4 separate regions of the Homo sapiens genome follow, and regions 1, 2 and 3 are each reported to be linked to region 4. The links are microRNA targets in miRTarBase. Many come from high-throughput screens and were not tested one by one. Region 4 holds a microRNA gene; each other region holds the end of a gene's coding sequence.
What was found. Region 4 holds the annotated microRNA hsa-miR-4474-3p (UUGUGGCUGGUCAUGAGGCUAA, at 3,064-3,085, opposite strand). A microRNA usually pairs through its seed, bases 2 to 8, with sites in the 3' UTR of a target mRNA and lowers its output. Matches are read on the target gene's strand: a 7mer-m8 pairs with bases 2 to 8, a 7mer-A1 pairs with bases 2 to 7 and ends in A, and an 8mer does both.

Region 1: the mRNA of C17orf99 is a reported target of hsa-miR-4474-3p. Seed matches in the 3' UTR shown: 7mer-A1 at 1,256-1,262.
Region 2: miRTarBase lists ALDH1L2 as a target of hsa-miR-4474-3p. Seed matches in the 3' UTR shown: 8mer at 5,247-5,254.
Region 3: the mRNA of CTNNB1 is a reported target of hsa-miR-4474-3p. Seed matches in the 3' UTR shown: 7mer-A1 at 5,605-5,611.

What each region holds. Positions count from the first base shown.
Region 1 is chr17:78,164,896-78,171,125 of GRCh38, forward strand. It overlaps C17orf99 (chromosome 17 open reading frame 99), which reads left to right. Exons shown (of 5, transcript NM_001163075.2): 5 at 994-1,402. The coding sequence ends at 1,151. It overlaps SYNGR2 (synaptogyrin 2), which reads left to right and starts at 3,686. Exons shown (of 4, transcript NM_004710.7): 1 at 3,686-3,820; 2 at 5,922-6,159. The coding sequence starts at 3,722. RefSeq lists silencers at 3,349-3,958, 3,989-4,148.
Region 2 is chr12:105,019,078-105,025,307 of GRCh38, forward strand. It overlaps ALDH1L2 (aldehyde dehydrogenase 1 family member L2), which reads right to left. Exons shown (of 23, transcript NM_001034173.4): 23 at 713-5,402. The coding sequence ends at 5,347. Among named protein-coding and RNA genes, the nearest start is that of NOPCHAP1, 36 kb to the left of the region's middle.
Region 3 is chr3:41,238,929-41,245,074 of GRCh38, reverse strand. It overlaps CTNNB1 (catenin beta 1), which reads right to left. Exons shown (of 15, transcript NM_001904.4): 15 at 4,632-5,941. The coding sequence ends at 5,733. Among named protein-coding and RNA genes, the nearest start is that of CTNNB1, 42 kb to the right of the region's middle.
Region 4 is chr9:20,499,214-20,504,213 of GRCh38, forward strand. MIR4474 (microRNA 4474) reads right to left here and starts at 3,129; the gene lies at 3,052-3,129. All of the region lies in intron 2 of MLLT3 (MLLT3 super elongation complex subunit), which reads right to left.

The sequences.
Region 1 (6,230 bases), not on the chromosome of region 4:
TGCTCCCAGGTGCCCTGTAACACAGTCTGCTGGCCTCTGGGAGGGCAGTCTCCTAAGTTCTTTATGGGGTCTGAGCAGGGATTGCAGGGATGATGCCTCCAGGAGACCAAGGTGGACCAGGAGCTCCTGCCTTCTGTGAGAACCACCTTGGGCAGTCTTTCCGAGGTGGTGGCAAGAGCCTGGGGCCCAGCCTCCCAGGGTCCCCTCTCCAAGGCCATGGCTTTACTAACATGTAAAGTGACCAAGGCCTTTGTAGTGTCTGAGTGCAGGCACCACAGGCCTGTGTGCTCTGCCTGTCTGGCTTTGGTGGTGGCCAGCCCTGCCTCTGTGAACTCATCTCTCTTTGTTTGGGAGACACTGCCGTGTCCTGGTTCTCATCCTCTGCCCGTGGCCCAGGCCCTTACGTGGCTCTACCAGGAGTCTGTCCTTGGCACTTTCCCATCTCACTTCTACCAAGTCTGTTCTTTCCAGAAGCCAGACTCGTGGGTGAGCCATGTCACCTCGCCGAGCCTCAGTTTTTCCTTCTGTAAAATGGGGTACAGCCTTCATTTAGTGGGGTGAGTAAGCCTCATGTCTCTTCTGCTGGGGCACTGATGTGCTTGGCACCATAAAACTCCCAGAGGCAGGCCGGGCACAGTGGCTCATGCCTGGAATCTCAGCACTTTGGGAGGCTGAGGCAGGCGAATCACCTGAGGTCAGGAGTTCGAGACCAGCCTGGCCAACATGAAGAAACCCCGTCTCTACTAAAAATACAAAATTAGCCGGGCGTGGTGGTGCGCACCTGTAGTCCCAGCTACTCGGGAGACTGAGGCAGGAGAATCACTTGAACCCAGGAGGTGGAGGTTGCAGTGAGCCGAGATCGTGCCATTGCACTCCAGCCTGGACAAAAAGAGCAAAACTCCGTCTCAAAACAAACGAACACTCTCAGACGCCTCGGGAGGGGATGGCTGGGAGGTGAGCCTGCCTGACTTGAGTCTCCACTGCTTTGTCAAGGTGGTGACCAGAAGATGGAGGACTGGCAGGGTCCCCTGGAGAGCCCCATCCTTGCCTTGCCGCTCTACAGGAGCACCCGCCGTCTGAGTGAAGAGGAGTTTGGGGGGTTCAGGATAGGGAATGGGGAGGTCAGAGGACGCAAAGCAGCAGCCATGTAGAATGAACCGTCCAGAGAGCCAAGCACGGCAGAGGACTGCAGGCCATCAGCGTGCACTGTTCGTATTTGGAGTTCATGCAAAATGAGTGTGTTTTAGCTGCTCTTGCCACAAAAAAAAAAAAAAAAAAAAAAGGGTAACTATGAGAGATGGTGGATATGTTAACTTGCTTCGCTATAGGAACCTTTGTGCTATCTATATTATCTATATGAATCCCATCATATCAGGTTGTCTACCTTAAATATACACAAAAACATTTATTTAAAAAAAAGAAAAAAGCCTGCCAGCTGGGATTCTTGGAGTGCTGGTGGCCTTCAGCAAACACAGACACTGTTGGTGTGAGGGCTTCAGGAGGGTCACAGAAATAAGGGGGTCTGTGTGGCCCTGTCCTCGCCTCTCAGGTGCTGTCACATCTCTCTGGGTGTAGGGAGAGGGAGGGGGGCACACTGCGAAAAGGCCCAGCCCCTCCCCCCCACCTGCTCCCCTCTTCCCTGGAGAGGCACCCCACCTCCTGGTGGCCCAGTCCTATGGTTCAACTCTCACGTGGTCCAGCTCACCTGGGTTGACTGTGAGCCCCACCTGGCACACCTGCTGTTGTTAATCTGCACCTGCAACTAGCAAAGGGGGGTCTGGAATTCTTCCGGGTTCAGTCAGCCTGTGATCCCACACCTCTGTCTGTACAACCTCCGCTCCCCACTCCAACACACACAGAGCCTGCCCCAGCCTACCCTGCACCAGACCCTCTGTACCGGTTTTTCTTGGGATGGAGGTAGAGAGGGACGGAGGCGAGAGGGGGCTGAACTGGAACTGGATTAAACTTTGCCATCTGCCTGTCGCCCTGAAAACTTCATTTCTGTTTGCATGCCATATATATATTTTTTTATATGTGGTCTTTTCTTTTTTTTTTTTTTTGAGATGGAGTCTCGCTCTGTCGCAATGGTGCAATCTCGGCTCACTGCAACCTCCGCCTCCCGGGTTCAAGCGATTCTCCTGCCTCAGCCTGCCAAGTAGCTGGGACTACAGGCACGCGCCACCATGCCCAGCTAATTTTTGTATTTTTAGTGGAGACGGGGTTTCACCATGTTGGCCAGGGTGTTCTCGATCTCCTGACCTCGTGATCCGCCTGCTTCAGCCTCCCAAAGTGCTGGAATTACAGGCGTGAGCCACCACGCCCGGCCGATATGTGGTCTTACTCTGTCACCCAGGCTGGGGTGCAAAGGCGTGATCTTGGTTCACTGCAAACTCCGCCTCCTGGGCTCAGACAATTCTCCCACCTCAGCCTCTGGAATAGCTGGGACTGCTAGTAGCTGCCACCACGCCTCGCTAACTTTCGTTTTTGGTTTTGTTTGTTTGTTTGTTTGTTTGTTTGTTTTGTTTGTTTTGAGATGGACTCTTGCTCTGTTGCCCAGGCTGGGGTGTAGTGGCTCGATCTCAGCACACGGCCACCTCTGCCTACCGGTTTCAAGCAATTATCCTGCCTCAGCCTCCCAAGTAGCTGGGATTACAGGCGCTTACCACAACGCCCAGCTAATTTTTTTGTTGTTGTTGTATTTTTAGTAGAGACGGGGTTTCACCATGTTGGCCAGGCTGGTCTCAAACTCCTGACCTCAGGTGATCCAACCGCCTCGGCCTCCCAAAGTGCTGGGATTACAGGTGTGAGCCACTGCGCCCGGCCTTGCACACCATCTTTTTTTTTTTTTTTTTTTTTTTTTTTGACACAGAGTTTTGCTCTTGTTGCCCAGGCTGGAGTGCAATGGCACAATCTCGGCTCACCGCAACCTCCACCTCCCAGGTTCAAGCGATTCTCCTGCCTCAGCCTCCCGAGTAGCTGGGATTACAGGCATGCACCACCACACCAGGCTAATTTTTGTATTTTTAGTAGAGACGGGGTTTCTCCATGTTGGTCAGGCTGGTCTCGAACTCCTGACCTCAGGTGATCCAACCGCCTCGGCCTCCCAAAGTGCTGGGATTACAGGTGTGAGCCACCGCTCCCGGCCTTGCACACCATCTTAAGTGTGACGCCACACTGCCCTTCACAGCCTTGGGGCTCTGCCCAGACCAGGAGGAATGGGGAGGGGGTCTTTGACCCTACCCCAGGCTTAGCCCCAGAGAGGAGGAAAGAGTGGCAGGCCAGGCAGGGAGGGGCTCCAGGGTGTGGCCTGGGTTTTTCAGTGGGATGGGGGAGGGGTTGCTTATGAGCCTGGGTGGGTTCTTGGTAGGTGGTGGGCTTCCTAGAGGAGGCGGTGGGAGGGCAGGGGCAAAGAGGGTGAGCGGTCCTCAGTTCGTCCGTCTTCCCGGGGGACTCTCTGACCCTTTCTGGTCCGTGCTGCGGCCGGCGTGGCCCGGAGACTAGCCCCTCAACCCCGAGGTGGGGTGGACCCGGGTGCTCCGCGGCCACAGCCCCTCCCCGCCTCTAGAAGCGCAGTCCCGCGGCTCGCCCGCCGCTCGCGAGGGCCGCACTTTGCCCTCGGTCCCTAGCGGCGCCTGGCCACGCCCCCGGCGGGTGGAGTCGGGCGGGGCGCCGGGCAGGTTCCTCTGCGTTCCGCGGCGGCGGCAGCGGCGGCGACGGCGACATGGAGAGCGGGGCCTACGGCGCGGCCAAGGCGGGCGGCTCCTTCGACCTGCGGCGCTTCCTGACGCAGCCGCAGGTGGTGGCGCGCGCCGTGTGCTTGGTGAGCCCGGGGAGGGCGGGCCGAGGGCACCCTGGGGACCCCCTCTCCGTCGCCAGGCCCGGCGGGGCCCCTAGCCCACGAGCGCGACAGGTGGCGGCGGCCGCGTCCGGGGCCTGGCGGCGAGCGGGGCCGGCGTCCAGCGTCCCGGGCCCCGCCTTCCCGCCCTCCACAGTCTGTCCCGCTGTCCCCTCCCGGTCCCGGGTCCCGCCACCCACCCCACCCCCAGCCTCGCGCCCCGACGCGGGGTGTCCGGATCTCCGCAGGGAGCGGGCCCCTGCCTCGCTGGCAGTGGGAGGAGTTTGGGGGCGGCTCCCGGACAGGTGGCCCGCACGCCGCGACTCCCAGATTGGGGAGTTCACCGGGACGGGGTTTTCCGAAGCCACGTGGGGTAAGGGAGGGGGCGGGGGGCGACCCAACGCCCGGAAACAGGGTGTCCTTCCCACTCGGGGCAGGCCACGGGTCCGCCTTCCCACCCGAAGTTGAGGGACCCCAAGATGTACCCCCTCCCTGTAAGGTGGGCAATACCTCCAAAACCAGGTTTTGTGTGTGTGTGTGTGTGGCGGGGAGGGGGCCTGTTCTTGGACAGCCAGCCCTGAAAGCTGGAGGGGGTGGCATGAGGGGGCAGGCAGAGGTGGGCCTGCTGTGCCCAGACCATGCCTGGGCCTGGAGCTTCTGAGGTCCTCCAGGGCGCCCACACCAGCTCCCAGCCAGGCTGTGGGATCTGATCGCCTCTGTCCTGGGCTGTGTCCAAGAATCAGGTGCCCAGTGGGTCGGGATGGCAGTGCCAGGAGTCCTGGATGGGCACCCTGCTCCCATCATCCCGGAGATCCGGCTTCATCTCCATCTGGGGGCGGGGCCTGTGACTGCCAGCTCCAGAGCCCTATGGAGAGCTCCCTGGGACAACAGGGCAGGACTGGCAGGGGAGAGTCCTGGGGCCATCCCAGAGGGATCCTGATGCTCACAGACCTGTCCCACACCTGCTGAGGTGGAGCAGGCGTGGGTGGTGGCCTTCAAGTTTAGGGAGGTGGTATGGGGCTCTTCCCAAGGGGCTGGAGCTCCCCTACATCCACCCTGGGTCCTCCAGGTGTCTGAGTTCAGAGCTGTATCCACAGGCCTGAGTTAGTCCCCTTGTAGTGCCCTGTGCATGCAGGGCCCTCTGTGGGGTGGGAGACAGACTGGGAGGGACCAGGATGCCACAGAGGCTGCAAGTCCTTGTGTGGAGACAGCTGGCCAGGCTGAACCAGGGAGGGTTCCAGGGGTTCCAGGAGGTGAAGACACAGGGGCGCCAGCATGGCCTTCCCAAGAGGGCCTGTCCACCTTCACCAAGGTGTTCAGGCAGAGGCTGGGTGCTGTAGAAGTGACTTGGGCTGAAGGTGACGGGGGATGGGTAGTCTTTGTGACTTGGCCTGTCTTGGTTAAACCTCTTTCAAGGTGAGGTTGGGCTGGGGATGGAAGGACTGCCCTTCATCCATCAGGTACCTAAGCAGAATGATTCCTGCAGCAGGCCGATGGGGCAGGAGCAGCCCCTGCCTAGGAGGTCCCTGCCCATTCCCCACCCCTCCCCGGTCCAGGATTCCCAGGGGCAGGCCCCCTGGTGCCTGCAGATTCTCATCCTGGGGTGCATCAGGAAGCACTTTGCTCATCAGCTCACCTCCACAAGTTTGGAGGGGCTAAGATGTCAGCCTCCAAAAGGGGACAGCAGGCTGGGCGAGGTGGCTCATGCCTGTAATCCCAGCACTTTGGGAGGCCGAGGAGGGTGGATCACCTGAGGTCAGGAGTTCCAGACCAGCCTGGCCAACATGGTGAAACCCTATCTCTACTAAAAATACGGGTGTGGTGGAGGGCACCTGTAATCCCAGCTACTAGGGAGGCTGAGGCAGAATTGCTTGAACCCAGGAGGCAGAGGATGCAGTGAGCCGAGATCGCACTATTGCACTCCAGCCTGGGCAACAAGAGCAAGACTCCATCTCAAACAACAACAAAAACCCAAAAGGGGACAGCAGTAGTGGGAGAGGCCAGCATCTGTACACCCCATCAGGGTCCCCGCTGTGTGTGCCCCTCAGGCGGCCACCAGCCCTACCAGGTCCTCCCCTCCCGGCAGGTCTTCGCCTTGATCGTGTTCTCCTGCATCTATGGTGAGGGCTACAGCAATGCCCACGAGTCTAAGCAGATGTACTGCGTGTTCAACCGCAACGAGGATGCCTGCCGCTATGGCAGTGCCATCGGGGTGCTGGCCTTCCTGGCCTCGGCCTTCTTCTTGGTGGTCGACGCGTATTTCCCCCAGATCAGCAACGCCACTGACCGCAAGTACCTGGTCATTGGTGACCTGCTCTTCTCAGGTATCTGCCTGTGGCACCTCCATTTGATCTTGGGGGAGGCATTAACTCTAGGGTTCCGCAGCTGGGAGGGT
Region 2 (6,230 bases), not on the chromosome of region 4:
CAGCTGCTGCTCCTCTTCTCCTCTCTCTACTTGCAGGGGCTGGGGTTTTTGTGGGCACAGGATTGGGGTAGGGCGGGCCATGGATAGTTTTGGAAAAGGCAACATTCGAGCAGGAAAATGGGAATGCATGTTCTCATTTTGGGCTGTGGTTCCACGCTTAAGAGTGGGGCCCTCGCTGGGGACCCATCCTCTTCTGCTCAGAATTTTCCTGCCTCCTGTCCCTATCATTATGATGGGATATGATTCCTGGAACTCCTTTCTCGTGGCCATGAATGGAGCCAGCTCTTGAGGGTAAAGTGAGCACACTACAGATAGCAGACAAGAGCAAAGAACATTATAGAGTCACTGCATCAAATAACTTGTATACTGCACTATTGCTGGGCTCTGTTTTTGGTGGCAGAATAAATTTCCTTATTTTTTTTTCAAAAAAGCCTATCACCTTGTGAGATATGCTTATATTCACTTCACAGCTGAGAAAATTGGCATAGAGATACTAATTGCATAACTTGTAATACACAATGTTGGCAAAGATGTGGGAAAATTGTTGGTGGGATTATTGATTCAGGAATTCCACTTCCAGGTATTTGTTCTAATTACATAAGTGTAGCTTTGGTCATAAATTTTATATAAGATTTTTTGTGACATTTAAAATAGCAAAAAGCAAATCTAAATGTCCGACGATAGACAACATGTTGAATTAAAGCCATTGAAATATGCAGAATTGTGTTTATTGGCATAGATGCTTATGATATATTGTTAATTGAAAAAGCAGGTAACAAATTAATATACAGTATTATGTTAATTATGTAAAAAAAGTATACATATTCATAGAAAAAGTTTGGAACAATCTCAGATATCATCTGTAGGCTATTTCTGTTTGAAAATAACCAAATAGATTTTTGGGTTGACTCAACAAATTATGGTTGAGTCAGTCTTACTTTCCTATTTTATAAATGTTTTTTACATCATTGGGTATTTAATCATTTTAAAAATCTACTCAGGCATCATTTGTATAATAGTAATAATAATTTAATCCCCCTTATTTCTCATGTCTCATGCCTTATCCATCATCCCTCATATCCTACTCTTAGCCCAGATTTTCCTTGACAGCTTTATTTTCTTGGAGGGCAGGTATGGGGAACCAAATTTGTTTCCTTACCCTAGCTCTAGCCATTTCCACAAAAGCTTTTATAGATAATGTCCATTTTGCTTATTATTTTTAGTTTAACCAATACTTAATATGTGCCCACAGCTCACTACCTAGGCCCTGATTTAGGCATTAGGAATAAAAACTATCTCGACTTAGTTAAAACCACCAGATGCATTGCTTGAAAACCTGTTCTGCCACTTAATAGCTGTGTGATTTGAGCAGGTTACTTAACCTCTCCATTTGAAAGCAAACATTTATTGGGCTCCTGTTACACATTAGGACTGGAGATACAGTATTAAAACAAGTACCTGTTCATGAAACTTACATTCTAATGGGAAAAGATCATTGATTAATATACAACAGGTAGTGATAAGTGCTATGAAAATAATGCACTTATAAAAAGAATAAAGAATGACAGCAGATGGGGTATGAATGTGGGGGCATATGGCCTATTTTAGAAAGCATAGTCAGGGAATGTGTCTCTCATCAGATGATATTTGAGGAGAGACCTGCAGGAAGTGAGCCAGCCAGCCATGAGGTTGTGTATGGACAAGAGTTGCAGGAAGAGGCAGTGGTGTGCTGGTGCTGGCTTGCATTTGTTCTGATGGCATGCATCTCTTCCCAAACTCTGTATTCAGTGAAGGCAAATTAGTGGCTCAAAAATAGCCTTGATGAGAGTATTTACACATAGATACCTGCAAATGCTACAAATGAGGGTTTTCTCCCCCGTCCCGGAGAACTATTTGTTAAATATTTTACCAGCACACCCCTGGGAAGAGGAAGAATAAGGACAGAGGCCCTGAGGCAGGAGCAGGCTTGTTCTGTTGAGGAAGTCAAGGCAGTCAGGATGGTGGAACAGAATGAGAGGGAAATTGACAGGAGATGAGGTCAGAGGTAGCTAGGAGCAAGATCAGTAGGCCAGGTAAATACGTTGGACTTTGGTCTACGTGAAATGGGGGCCATTGAAAGGTTTTAAACAGACGAGTGAAGTGACACTGTCTGACTTAAGCTTTGAACAGGACCGCAGAAGAGAGGAATCCAGAAGACCAGTTGGGAGACTTGAGCAAAATTGTAGGAAAGAGGTAACAGGCCAGGTGCAGTGGTTCATGCCTGTAATCCCAGCACTTTGGGAGGCGGAGGCAGGTGGATCACTTGAGGTCAGGAGTTCAAGACCAGCCTGGCCAACATGGCGAAACCCCATCTCTACTTAGCCAGGTGTAGTGGCACACACCTGTAATCCCAGCTACTTGGAAGGCTAAGGCATGACAATCGCTTGAACCCAAGAGGCAGAGGTTGCAGTGAGCCAAGATTGCACCACTGCACTGCAGCCTGGGCAACAAGAGCAAAACTCTGTCTCAAAAAAAAAAAAAAGTAATAATGGCTTAGGGGTAGAGGTAGTAAGAAAAGCACGTTGATTTCTTCATTTTTTTCAGAGATTGTGAAGATTAAATAACATTTAAAACATGCTTAGCCTAAGGTCTTTCATACAGGAGGCCCTTAATAAATGGTAGCTGTCATATCGTATTATTATTGACAGAAGGCCCATACTGGAGTTGGGGAGGGTTGTTCATATCTAATTAAGAAGGCAAGTAATTTTAGTACAAGTGGTAAGTGCTATGTTTGAAACAAGTGGGAACGCTGAGGAGAAACACTTAGCCCAGCTAGGGTAGGAAGGTCCAGGAAGGGTGTTAGAGCAAAAGGGACAGCTTTAGCAAAGGCATGGGGATGGGGAATTAGAAGGAAAGTGGAACTGCTTAAAGTGTCCACACCTCCCGATTCAGGTGATAATAAGATCACAGCTTCATCCTTAGCATTATTAGCAAAATAATCCGTGATCTAAAGCAACAGCGATGATTTTATTACTCTATGTGTTAAGTAAATCACCTAGCAGGCTGGGGAGGGTGATGTTCCAATTCCAGTTCACTTGGTAACTTTATGTATTACACAGAGCCTTTGATTCTGATCAGCCAGATCTAAAAATGTAAGCTGGTAAGAAATGTTTAAAACTTGCTATGGAGAAAGGAGTTCTTAATCTGGGGCCCAAGCATGGCCTTTGGGAGGTCTGTGAACCCTTTGAAGATACTTGCAGAATTGTGTGTGTGCACATGAATTTTGGGGGTAGAAGCGGGACACAGGGAGTGTTCATAGCTTTTATCAGATTCCCAAAGAGTTTTGCAGCCCAGAGAATATTTAAAACACTGCTACTGAGATGAATATTAGAGGGTAAAGTAAAATCAGTCTAGAAGGACAGGCATGTTTTTGTCTGCCATTCCATCTATCATTAAAATAATTTGATTAAATCATATTCTAAATCACATGAAATCAGTTAAAACATTTCACTTAAAAGTGATTACTTATAAAAAGGCTTTTGTCACTTTTATTCAAATATGAACTGTCATTTTGGGCCCAGTGAATATTCATTCCAACTTAAAATTTCAGCTGTGCCAAACTCTGGGATGGTAAATGAGCTATAGTATAATCAAAAGTGCTTCCAGGCCAAATTCGCTCTGTTTATCATGCTGGGATCAAACCTCCTATTCTTCCTTTTGAAAATGTTCTCTGACTCTGATTTTGTTGTTTAGTTTTTATTGATTCCCTACAATCCCCTCATGTTATTCTGCCAAGTCTCCAAAATGACAAATATTCCCTAAGGCTTCTTCAAAGCCAAAGAAAAAGGAATGTTTACTGAAATTTTATTTTTAAAGGAGGATTAATAGAATTTAACTTTCTGGCTATCTTTTGGAGACTCATGTGATTCAGAAATTTGCCGCCTTCTAGTCACACATAGATGGTGAAAATTTACTCACCTGACTACTTCTGTCTGCCAATGGGAAATGGGCTGTTAATAGTTTCCATTTCTTCAATGCTATGGTCCAAACGCCTTGTTAAGTGCATTATGTATATTATCTCACTGAATCCTTGCAACACCTACTGAGATAGAGATTTGATTTTCATTTTATAGATACTCAACCTAGGCTCTGAGATATTAGATTACTATCTTGCCCAAGATCACACAGCCAGTGAACAGCAGAACCAATAGGTAGAAAAATGGAAAGTAAGATGTCCCATGAAGGACGAGCGAGCTGCCCAAAGAAAAGCACCCCTTTTCCTTGTACTATTGCCATTTTTCATTGTGTGGCATTTTTCAGTGCTGCTGTATCAGGCATTGTGTCAGAACAATGGATGAGAAAAATATCTAGGAATTGATGATTGAAAAGGGTTGTGGGAAATGAATTCATCTAGTTAATTAAACTATCTCAATATCTTTTAAGAATGGTGACGGAGGAAATCAGAGTTAAATTTGAGTACTTACCATGAGCAAAGCATTAATGTGAGGTGCTTTACTTACATTACTGCAATGAATTCTCCTATTAAGGGTCCTGAGGAAGGCATTTACTATCCCTGTTTTACACATAGGGAAGCAGAGGCTCAGAGGAGTTGCGAGAGTTTCCCAAAGTTACATAGATAGGAAGATGGTATGATACGACCAGGATCAGCCTTCTACTATATCATATGTAAAATTTGCTTCAAAAGCTATTTACTAAAATTTAAACTATGTGGGGGCCAGCCATCATATCATTAAATTCTCTATACTCCTCAGAACATAATATAGTACCTGGTACCTAGTAGGTACTCAAGATAATGTTTCTAGGTTGATCACCCATCACAGTGGGTTAAAAAATGGAATATCAAAGGCACAAAGATGTATCTTATTTCCAAATACTAAAAAAGAACTACCTTCACATTCCTTACAGGTTATACTGTTCCTTAGAAGACTTATAGAAAATCTTTTTAATAACCCCCTATGTATAGTTCAGAGGTTAAAAACCTGTACATATTATACAAAGTTTCCAATAAATGCACCTTGTGTATTATAACTGCATGGTACTGACATCTTCAAGATGGGAACCATGAATAGATTTGTCTAGGTAGGGGAGAAACAGCTTGGTATTTTAGAAATACGTATGATATACAACATAGTCAAAATGCAACAACTCCAAATCACTGGAAGGTGTATTAGAAAATACTCAGGCACATGTGTAAATGCTTTAACATGGCCTGGCCCTCTTCATGGTCCATCTGTGTATTTTTTGGTTTGTGGCTGACACCTCCTGCCTCAACACACCCAATCTTCTTAAGTGTGTCCAGAGTTGTAAAGGGCTGTCTGTCAAGGCTTTCCTGATGATGGTGTTGCTCTAATATTCCAGTGTCACCGTCTTGGTTTTGAGATATTCATTTAGAGCTTCCTCACCTAGGGAAGAGAAAAGCAGTTGACAGACCACATTCAGAGGCAGACATGTGATGTCTTCAGACCTTCAGACATAGGTATACGTAGGTGTCCAGGTCACTAAGTAAATAGAATGTGGCCTAAGCCAGTGCTTCTCACACTTTGAAGTTCATACTAACCATCTGAAGACTCTGTTAAGTTGCAGATCCTGATCTGATTAAGTCTGGTGTGGGCCCAGAGGTTTTGTGTTGCTAACCATTCCCTGATGATGCTGATGCTAGTGGTCCATGGACCACACTTTGAATAGTAACAGCCCAGACCAGCTACCAGGCCTTCTAAGGAGCAGAGAGTGTTGCCTGGTCAGCTTCAAACCAAAACCCTTCTCTTTTATTTCCCTACTTGATGACAGACTCTGCCTTTTTGTCCATTTAAACTAAACAGAAGTAACCAGGATACTGTCCTCTGGATTATATTAATTAAAGCAGAACTGAGCACAGGAAAGTTTGAAATCATTTGGTTTAACCTTATTTTAAAGATAAGGAAAATTCAGTTTATATTGTTTGTTAGAAACACAGGGAAACCTGTCTAGGCAAAAATAAATAGGTCTGCCTTTCTTTGACTGTTTCTATTTTGAGCCAGTACTGTCATCAATCTCTACAGAGGTTAAAGGGCACTGAATACCATGGGAAAACTAATGAGTGCGTGATTCTGGAAGCTGAGCTAAAACAAGGGCTGTCAACTTTGTCCGCATGTTAGAATCACTCAGGGAGCTTTTAAGACTCCTGACCCCACATCACACCCCAGATCAATTAGATCAGTATCTGTATTTTTTGAAGCTCCCAGGTGATTTGA
Region 3 (6,146 bases), not on the chromosome of region 4:
GAGGTCTGTTTTCTTTGCCGTCTCCCTTTAGTTCTTGGGTGGGGGTAACGCCCATGGGGTTCTGGGTCTGGAGTCCTCTCAGGGTATTTCAGAGCAATGGAAGATTCTTCTTATTTCCCCTTCTCACTTGAGCAAGGAGTCGTCTTCGCTGTTTAACAGAGAACAGGAAACTCTTAATATTCCAGAGCCATTTTGTTCAGTGGGCCAGTCCTGGCCCTAGGCCCCGGTGTTGCCTGTCTGGGGAAAAGCTTATCTGGGTAAGCAAGGACAAGGAGATGATGGTCCCAAGCAGAGCCACTGCCCTGCCAAACATGTTGGGCCACTAAAGCTAGTCCATGCCAAGCCTTGTCCCTGGTGAGGCTGTGTCCTGGAGGAAAGGTGCCTATGGAAAGCAGCAGCCCAGGTCCATTTGAGTTCAGAGGTAGGGGATATGAGCAGACTGGTTGGGCAGAGGGCAGCTAACAGCAGTAACCCTTCCCTGCCCTCCCCAGGCCTGTACCTTAGTATTTGGCATGCCTAAGTGGCTCCATTCTGAGAGCAGAGCTGGCCCCCCGGGCCCCTCAGCTCTTAGGATTCTGGCAGTGGCAAAGGGCCCACACCTACTAGCCCTCTCCTTCCCTCCATCCCCAAGCTTCAGCTATCTGCTTATTAGCTACAATCCACTGGCTCTCTTCAGGGATGAATGGGTCACTGAAGTCACAGAGGTGAGAGGCAAAGGAGGTGACAAGCAATAGGGCAGAGGCGGCTCAGGTGAGTGGCTGCACACAGGTCTATTCCTCTCCCTCCACTAACAGCAAGCCCAAAGTTCTAAGACCTTGCCTTAACTTACAGCCGAGTCTGCATCCCCATTAAGCTGTCCCTCCGTGAAGCACCATTTGGGGTAACTCTGGTCACAGGTGTCCTGAAAGGTGCTGACAATCACTCATGGCACCTAAGTAGGTGAGTCAGTGGAATGCAGCAACAGAATTTACTATCTTATGGTTCTTTGCAGTTTATCTTTTCAAGTTTCTCCTATGAGGTTCTCAGGTCGGTTCTGTGAACACAGGGCGGGCATCATCCCTGTGTTATAGTTGAGAAAATGGGGGCTCTGGTAGCTAAGGCTCTCGTACAAGGTGATGGGAGAGGAATCTCCCTCACCAGGTCTCACCTGTCTCCACCTGAAGCAAGATGCCCTTTCTCTTTCCCCTGGCAACAGAAAAATGCAATGTAGAATATAATCTTATACATACAGGGGCTACGGTAGCAAGTGGTAGGGAACGGGGGAAGAGGCTGCAAGAAAGCTACAAGAGGCTTGGCCTCTTGGGACAGCTGTCTGGAGTGGGGTTGGGCGAGACTAGGCAAAGCTAGGCAGCCTTGGCCTCAAGCTTCAGTGGGGTTGAGAAGTGGTGTGTGGGAGCAAGAAGCTGGGCCTAGAACGAGGAGTTTTAATCTGCCCTTAAAATCCAGCCTCTGGCCTCTCCCATCAGAGGCTTGATGTTGAGGCGGGTGGACAAATGCATCCATTAGGTGTTTTAATAAATAATTACATTTGAATGGTGATATCCAATCCAGAAGCCTGGTACAAATGAAGCCTGGTGAAAACACCCAAAAGATAGACAGCAGAGTTCCTCCCTCACACGCTGTTAGTCCTCTCCCTGTCTCCTCCTGCAAGGTGCCCATTGCCACTAGGGTCTTCGTGTGCATCCAGGGATGGTCTATGCCTATCTTCACAAAGATTCTGCACCCACCCCTTTTTACCCATATGTGAGCAGCTGTCAACTCTGCTCCTTGCTTTTTCTCTTACTATGTATTTTGAAGACCATTTTATTCCAAAACACAGCTTTATGGGCTGGTTTTTTTTCCCCCCTTTGACTGCAGAGTGGTCCACCAAATAGATGCATCAAAATTTGCTTAACTAGTTAGGTTCCCTTTTGACACCTATTTGGGTTGCTATCTTTGACAGTGTTGCAATGAATTCCTTGTACATACTCGTGAGTATACCTCAAATAATTCTGAGTAGAACTGCTTTGTCACAGAGTGGCTCTCAGTCGTACCTAACATGGAAATTACATTTATGGACACACGGACCTTTCCCTATTCATGCCAAAACCTACTTTGGAAATACATAGAGATGGGGTTTCTCCTTTGCCTTCCTGCATACCCCTATACCTGTTCTGACCTTCCCCCACAACCTCAACTCTGAAACTTGTCACTTCCTTCTACGTTTACTGGAGTCTCAAGTGGTGGAATGGATATTATACAGAATTCCACATAGGAGGCTGCGATAAAAGAAAAAGGAAGAACTGCCCTGACAGCCCCTGCAGCCCCATCATTTCATAATTTCACTTTGGTGGGTGATCTGCTCAAGGCAAGGAAAGGCAGGTTCTCACTTAATAGAACTGCAGATCAACTTAGCATTTTTGCTTTATAAACAAAACAGCACAATTCACATCTTTTTATTATAGCAACCAAGAGTTAAAGAGTGTGTTTATCTTAAGATCTTTCATTATTAAGGATTCAGATCATCAGATTTCAAAGCCTCATGTCTGTAAGATCTGCTCCAACATAGAAAAGCTTCCTTCTTTGGTTCAATGGTGGTTGCTGCAATGGGATCAAATGTCTTAACTCTCAAGGCTGTCTCATAACTACAGCACAACTGAAAAAAGAACACTCAGGCTGGAAAGCCCTCCTATTCTCAACGGCCATGTTCATTTTGTCATTTTCACCTCCTGTACCCGGAAATGCAAGTGGGCAGCATTCCTTTTAGGCCTTTTCCTCCCCACCACTACTTCTCTTATTGAAAACTTGACCTCACTTTCTTCACCACTATTTACAGGAAAGGTTAGGTACCTTGCCAGCATCCCATGCACCTCCCTCTCCAGGTTAACCATTATTCTGATTTCTATAGTCATCTAATCATCTCCTTGCTCCATCTGTGGATATTTTCCTTAAAATAGCTTGTCCCTTTTTTTAATTGATGATCAATGGAGTTCTAAAGCATGCATCTGTAACTTGCTTTTGTTCAGTGTTATGTGAGATAGATATATGCATACTATACTGACACCCACATCACTGAAGCTGTAGTTTTTCACTGCACTGTCTCGTGTGAACAGAGATTGTTGGACACATGGGCGTCCAGTGTAGACTGTCAGCGTTGTGCCCTACCAAGCCTTACTGGCGCTTGAGGCAAAAGAAAAATCAGTACTACTGCCTTTATTTAAAATCTTGATATTTTGTTGGGTCATGGATGTTTTTCTGTATTGTTTTATTCCAACGGCTGTTTCACACCTTTATGAAAAAGTTGCTCTCCTCCCACTCGGATCTCCAACGCTGTCTCTGAAGAGTCTTTAAATGCCTGTGTATTATTCTGTATTAATCTGTATTTATATCCCTATTCCTGTAACAGGGTTAACTAACTTTAGCTTTGTATTAAGTAGTTAGGCCTTGACAGCTGCTAGAGCAAGTGCTATTTTTCCTAAGCGTCTTGGCTATTATTCACCCTTGGTACTTCCAGAGCCACCTTGTTGAACTGGATTAACTCTCACATTAAGTTTTTAAACTTCAAAAATAAAATACAATGAATTAGCAAAGCTCTGAAAACATTCTCTGGTTTTAAAAAGTTGTTCTTTCTGTAATTGAAACACCGTGCGGTGGCTCTTTATGTTAAAAGCTGAATTCACTGAAGATCTTCACGGTGTTAACCTACCAATAGCCCTAGGCTTCTTGAAATACTGGCTGGTTTGGTTTATCACACATGAGACAGAACCTGAGACCTACCACATCATCAGCTATGTGAATGTTTCTTTTCAAACCCTAATTACATTTTAGACCACAATGAATTCATTTTTGCAAAGCAAGGGCATTCACAAAAAGGCCTCCCCAGATGAAGCTGATTTTTAACGAAAAAGAACTGAATGTATGTTTTTCTCATAATTAATAGTCACTATCAATCATCATCAAAATAAAAACAGTAAATCAGAAAGAGCTCTCCCTAAAGACAAAACACTTCTTTCTTTTACTTTTTAAAAGACCAAAACACAAGTCTTAACAAACAGGTCTACCTGAAGAGATGAGATGAACTAAGCTTGTCAGACCTACCACCGGGATGATAGGATCATCTGGCAGGTACTGTGGAAGGCTCATTCTGGTTCTGATTATGTTCAGATAAACATCAACACTTAAACCTATTTAATTTATTTAATTATTATTAGTTCAAAGTCCAGTTGAAGGAATTCCCCTCTCCCAATGAGTCACACTTGGGTGAAGGTGATTCAAATCCAAATCCAGGTAGGGGTAGTTACTATTTATTTCATTACTTTAATGGAATCAAATCATCTGAGGGGGATTGGGGTAGAGATAGATAGATGGATAGTCTGCTTGGCTTTCTCCCACCAAAGCCCAGAACTAATCACAATGTGCAAGGCTGAAACACTTTTTTAGGGGTCCAGCGTAATCCAGGGCCAAATGCTAAAGAAACTTGGCAAATTGCATCTAGAGAAGTAGGGCCCTCTCTATCGCTACAACAAATTACTTCACTATGTATCTATCTATCTCAGGATAAAGTTCAGGATAAAGTTGAGTTGGATAAACTTACTTACCACCCTCACAAACCATTTATTAATGACAAGAAAAAAAGAAAGAGTGACACAATCGAATGAATTAAAAGTTTAATTCTGAACCATTTTTTATAACCGCATTTTCTCTTGAAGCATCGTATCACAGCAGGTTACAACAACTTTGGGATAAAAGGCAACTGGTAAACTGTCCAAAACAAGGTTCCAAATAACACCTCTTACTGATTTACCCTACCCATACATATCCCAAATAGTTTTTGATCAAAAACATGAAATAGATCCACCTGCTTATTTTAAGCATATTAAAAAGGAAACTAATTGGACCATTTTCTATTTGTCTATTTTATACAAAAAGGCTACACAATTGTTACACTTTATTCAGATTACAATTAATTAGAGTGATTATGAATTAGTGTTCTACACCATTACTCAATTCTTAAAAATTAGAAATTGCTGTAGCAGTATTCACTATAACTTAACACTACGAGAGACTTAAAAAACAGTTACTGCAAAAAAAAAAAAAAAAAAAAAAAAAGAGCTACTTCAAAGCAAGCAAAGTCAGTACCATTACAGATATTCTTAAAAAAAAAAAAAAAAAAATTTAACAAGCAAGGCTAGGGTTTGATAAATTCCATCTTGTGATCCATTCTTGTGCATTCTTCACTTCTTGAGTCACTCCCAAAATCCATTTGTATTGTTACTCCTCGACCAAAAAGGACCAGAACAAAAAGTTTACTTCAATTGTTCCCATAGGAAACTCAGCTTGGTTAGTGTGTCAGGCACTTTCTGAGATACCAGCCCACCCCTCGAGCCCTCTCAGCAACTCTACAGGCCAATCACAATGCAAGTTCAGACAATACAGCTGTATAAAGAGAGAAAGGCTGCTATTAATGTTTAAAACAGCAAATGTTACTCATTTGAGTATTAAGTTGCAAAAGCTGTGGCAAAAAACATTAAAGTTAATAACTTCCACACATGATCACATAACAACCAGAAATCTGAGAACATTCCAATGTTCCAAGACATCTCCTTTCAAAGTATATACCTGTTTTTGTGGCAGATTTACAAATAGCCTAAACCACTCCCACCCTACCAACCAAGTCTTTCTGAAGTTCTGTAGGCAGAGTAAAAGTATTTTACCCAAACTGGCTTTTTAAAACTTCTTACCTAAAGGATGATTTACAGGTCAGTATCAAACCAGGCCAGCTGATTGCTGTCACCTGGAGGCAGCCCATCCATGAGGTCCTGGGCATGCCCCAGATCTGGCAGCCCATCAACTGGATAGTCAGCACCAGGGTGGTGGCCACCCATCTCATGTTCCATCATGGGGTCCATACCCAAGGCATCCTGGCCATATCCACCAGAGTGAAAAGAACGATAGCTAGGATCTAGAAGAGTCAGGGTGTCAACAAAATAGGCAAGAAGGAAGGCAAAAGAGAGAGGAGAGAAGCAGACATAGACGTTAACACTGAGGTTAGGGCATCCAAAGTTCAGCAGCAAACTTGTCAGAAAACAACGCTTTCTAGCCTCTTCAACCTCCAGCTTTCTTTAGCCAAGTAATTACTCAGTGCCAGGCCACCCATGAGACTACAC
Region 4 (5,000 bases):
TCCATGATGACCTCATCCTAAATTGATCACATCTACAAAAGACACTATTTCCAAATAAGGTCACATTCAAAGGTACCTGGGGTTAGGATTCAACATATATTTGGGAGGATATAACTCAGCCCATAACAGGCATTTAGTGTTTAATATGTTTTTAAAACCCACTGTAAATGATACAGGGAGGCTATGCATGTGTGAGGGGAGAGGGTACACAGGATATTTCTACATCTTCCTCTCAATTTTGCTGTGAACTTCAAACTGCTCTAAAAACATTGTCTTTAAAAAAAACACACACTGAACAATAAATTATTTGACATAAGCTCTGACCTCCTTGAAACAGTCCATTTTTGCTGCAATAACTGTTCTCATAGAGATACCTTCGAAATCATTTGCAGAATTTACCCATGGTCTTATTTCCCCAAAATAGATGCATTCCTTGCAATACAATCAGCTCAGCTTAAGGGTCTACCCTGAGCTGTCCCCTTATTAACAACTGTTAGGTAAAGGTACATGAAGAAAAAAACTTGTATGACTGTTTCTTTTAAGATCTCTATTGTTCTGTCTCCAAATAGGGTGTAAAAATGTAGCATCCTCCTGTAGTCCCAGCTACTCAGAAGGCTGAGGCGAGAGGATTATTTGAGCCTAGGGCTTTGAATCCAGCCTGGACATCATAGCAAGAACCTGTCTCTTAAAAAAAAATGTGGGGGAACAGGTGTTAATGCAGTGACAACTCTAAATCTGCATTCAGAGATGCCTCTTATTCCATCCCTGTCTTCCTTCAATACCACCTAACAGAAAATGGAAAAATGCTTCTCCAAAGAAACATGTTCCAATTATCTATTGATACATAATAAGTCACCATCAAGCTTAGTTTAAAACAGTAATAGCCATTTTACTTTCTCTGAGGGTCAGGAACTCAGAAAGGTTTGATTGTGTGGTTCTAGCTCAGAGTTTCTCATTTGGCTGCACTGAAATGGTGCCTGAAGCAAGAGCGGTGCAGGGCTAGCAGGGCAAAGGTCTGGCTGCTTAATACAGTTGGTCTTCTCAGGGCCCTTGGTCTCTCCTCACAACACAATGGCCTCTGAGCAGCTGGACTGCTTACATGAAGGCTGCAGGTTTCACAACTGAACACCGTATTTCAACAAAGAAAGGAGCATCACCTTTTCTGATCTAGCTTCAGAAATCACATAGCATCATTTCTGCACTACTCTATTGGCTGAAACAGGCACAAAAGCCAACCTAGCTTCAAAAAGAAAAGACAAAGACCCTACCTCTCAAAGACAGAAGTAGCAAAATCAACTGTGAGAAGAGCATGTGGGTGAAAGATAACTTTACGGAAATCTTTGGAAAATTCAATTTGCCCCAGAATATATCCTAGTTCTCCCTGGGGCATCAAGAACTATTGACCACTCAGTTCAAATTAAATTCTAAGGCAAAGCTATACACTGACATGCCCAGGCTCAATATTTTCCCCATTCTTATTTCTCCCAATACTGTTTTCCATCTTGTCTACTACAGTTGAGTATACCCTATTGACTTTGGTCCTCCAGGTGTTCTGTGTTACAAAAACCGAATTCAGAAGTTACTTACCACAGGTCATATAGAGAAACTAATAGCAATCTCTTGATGCACAGCTGCATCATTTTCAACTCCCTCCAGTTCAATGTCTTCTTTAAGTTCAATGCCCAGAAACCTGGGTTACACTCTAGCCCTCCCAATAATTATTAAGAATTGCCTATAATTCAGAGTTTCAAATCATTCTTTCATTAGTTTAAAGTGAATTTCCCATTATAAAACACACAGATACACACACACATGCACACACATGTGCACCACTTTCCTTAGCTAAATATGATTGATTTTTGGATAATTTACCAATTATGGTTCATGGTATCCATTCACTAGTTAAAATGCCTAGGAATTACTATATTTCCCTTTCTACTTCCATAAATCATGATGTCACAAATCTTTATTCAAATATACCATTTCTAGGACACCTCATTTACTTTAAGATTCTCTCATTCTCCATAAAATGTAATGGAAAATAAATTCCACACAATAAATATTGATGGAACACTGAATACATACCAGGCCTTCTGCTATGTGTGAGGTGACGAAGGCAAATAAGACAGTTTCCTTCCCCTCACATAGTTAAGGCATCTAACTATGAAGACAAATTTACCAACAACCATGATTATTACTTACAATATCCAAAGGAGCCCTCATTAAGACCTAGGAGACTCAGTTAAAACCACACCCGGCCGGGCACGGTGGCTCACGCCTGTAATCCCAGCATTTTGGGAGGTCGAGGCGGGTGGATCATGAGGTCAGGAGATCGAGACCATCCTGGCTAACAAGGTGAAACCCCGTCTCTACTAAAAATACAAAAAATTAGCCGGGCGCGGTGGCGGGCGCCTGCAGTCCCAGCTACTTGGGAGGCTGAGGCAGGAGAATGGCGTGAACCCGGGAAGCGGAGCTTGCCGTGAGCCGAGATTGCGCCACTGCAGTCCGCAGTCCGGCCTGGGCGACAGAGCGAGACTCCGTCTCAAAAAAAAAAAAAAAAAAAAAAAAAAAAACCGCACCCAAGAGGTCAGGCGAGGTGGCTCAGACCTGTAATCCCAGCATTTTGAGAAGCCAAAGCAGGCAGATCACCTGAGACCAGGAGTTCGAGACTAGCCTGGCCAATATGGTGAAACCTCGTCTCTACTAAAAATACAAAAATTAGCTGGGGGTGGTGACACACACCTGTAATCCCAGCTACTGGGGAGGCTAAGGCAGGAGATTCACTTGAACATGGGAGGCGGAGGTTGCAGTAAGCCAATATGGTGCCATTGCACTCCAGCCTGGGCAACAAGAGCGAAACTCCATCTCAAAAAAAAAAAAGGGGGGGGGGGGGACTACCTTTTAAGGAAAAGTAGGTAAATATCTGACAATAATAAAACGAAGAGTACTGATTGTTGACAAAGTTAAAATGTAAGCAAAAATTCCAGAGTATACAGAATGCCTGGCTTGACAGGGCACCACAAATGAACCTGACTTGAAGTGTGGTTCCAGGTGCCTACCTTGTTAGCCTCATGACCAGCCACAAAGAGCCATATTTGTGTCTGATCATGAGACTAACAAGGTAGGCAAATGCCAGCCTGTGATGTTCCTTACATAGCACTGTAAGGAGCTGAATTCTACAGGTAATAGCTAGCCACCAAGTATTTTTAAGAGGTGAAAAAACTTGCAGACAACGTGATCTTATACAGTTGCTTGTCTATATCCATGGGTTCCACATCTGTGGATTCAACCAACCACAGATTGAAATATTAGGAGAAAAAATTACATCTGTACTGAACTTTTTTATTGTCATTATTCCCTAAGCAATACAGTATACCAACTATTTATATAACATTTACAATGTATTAGTTATTATAAGTAATCTAGAGATAATGTGTAGTATACAGGAGAATGTGCATAGGTTATATGCAAATACTATGCTATTTTATATCAGAGATTTCAGAATCCATGGGTTTGGGTATCCACAGGAGGTCCTGGAACCAATCCCCTGCAGATACTGAGGAATGACTGTAGACAAACAACCCTAACATCTCCATCAAAAAACTGTTAGAACTAATAAATAAATTCAGTGAAGCTGCAGGAAACAAAATCAACATCATTTTTCAAACATCAGTAGCATCTGTATATGCTAACAATGAGCTATCTGAAAGATAAATTAAGAAAACAATCCATTCACTACAGCAACCAAAAAGAACAGAATGCTTAGGAAAAAATTTAAACCAAGAAGTTGAAAGACCTGTACACCAGAAACTATAAAAGATTGATGAAAAAAACTGAAGACAACACAAATAAGTGGAAAGACATACTGTGTTCACAAGTGGAGAAATTAATAGTGTTAAAATGTCCACACTACCCAAAGTGATCTACAGATTCCCCAATCAAAATTTCAATGACATTTTTTACAGAAATAGAAAAAACAATCCTAAAATTTGTATGGAACCACGAAAGACCCCAAATATCTGAAGTAATCTCAAGCAAAAAGAACAAAGCTAGAGGCATCACACTATCTAACTTCAAAGTATACTACCAAGCTACAGTAATCAATACAGCATGCTGCTGGTATAAAAAGAGACACACAGATCAATGGAATGGAATAGAGGGCCCAGAAATAAATCTACACATATACAGTCAATTGATTTTCAACAAAGGTGCCAAGAATGCACAATGGGGAAAGCACAGCCTCTTCAATAAATGGTGTTAGGAAAACTGGACACCACACACATAAGAATGAAATTCGACCCTTACTTCATACTAAATATAAAAATCAACTCAAAATGGACTAAAGATTCAAATGTAAACCTTGAAACCATAAAAATACTAGAAGAAAACATAGCAGAAATTCTCCATGACATTATTCTGGGTGATGATTCTTTGGATATGACCCCAAAAGCACAGGCAACCAAAAACAAAAACAAAAAAATAGATAACTGGGATTACATCAAACTAAAGAGCTCTGCACAGCAAAGAAAACAATCAACACACTGAAAGACAACCTGCAGCCTGGAAAAAAATATATGCAAACCATGCATCTGATAAAAGACTAATATCCAAAATATATGAGGAACTCAAACAACTCAATAGCAAGAAAATAAATAACCTGATTTTAAAATGGGTGAAGGACTTGAAAAGACATTTCTCAAAAGACGACATACAAATAGGCAACAGGTGTATGAAAAAATGCCCAACATTACTAATCATCAGAGACATGCAAATTAATACCACAATGAGATATCACTTCACACGTGCTAGAATGGCTATTATCGAAAAGATGAAGATAGATTTTTGCAAGGATATAGAGAGCAGAGAAAAAGGATCCACTGTATACTGTTGGTGGGAATGAAAACTAGTATAGCCATTATGGAAAATTTTAAGGTTCCTCAAAAATTAAATTATTGACCTAGCAATTCCAAAACTGTGTATACATCCAAAGGAAACAAAAC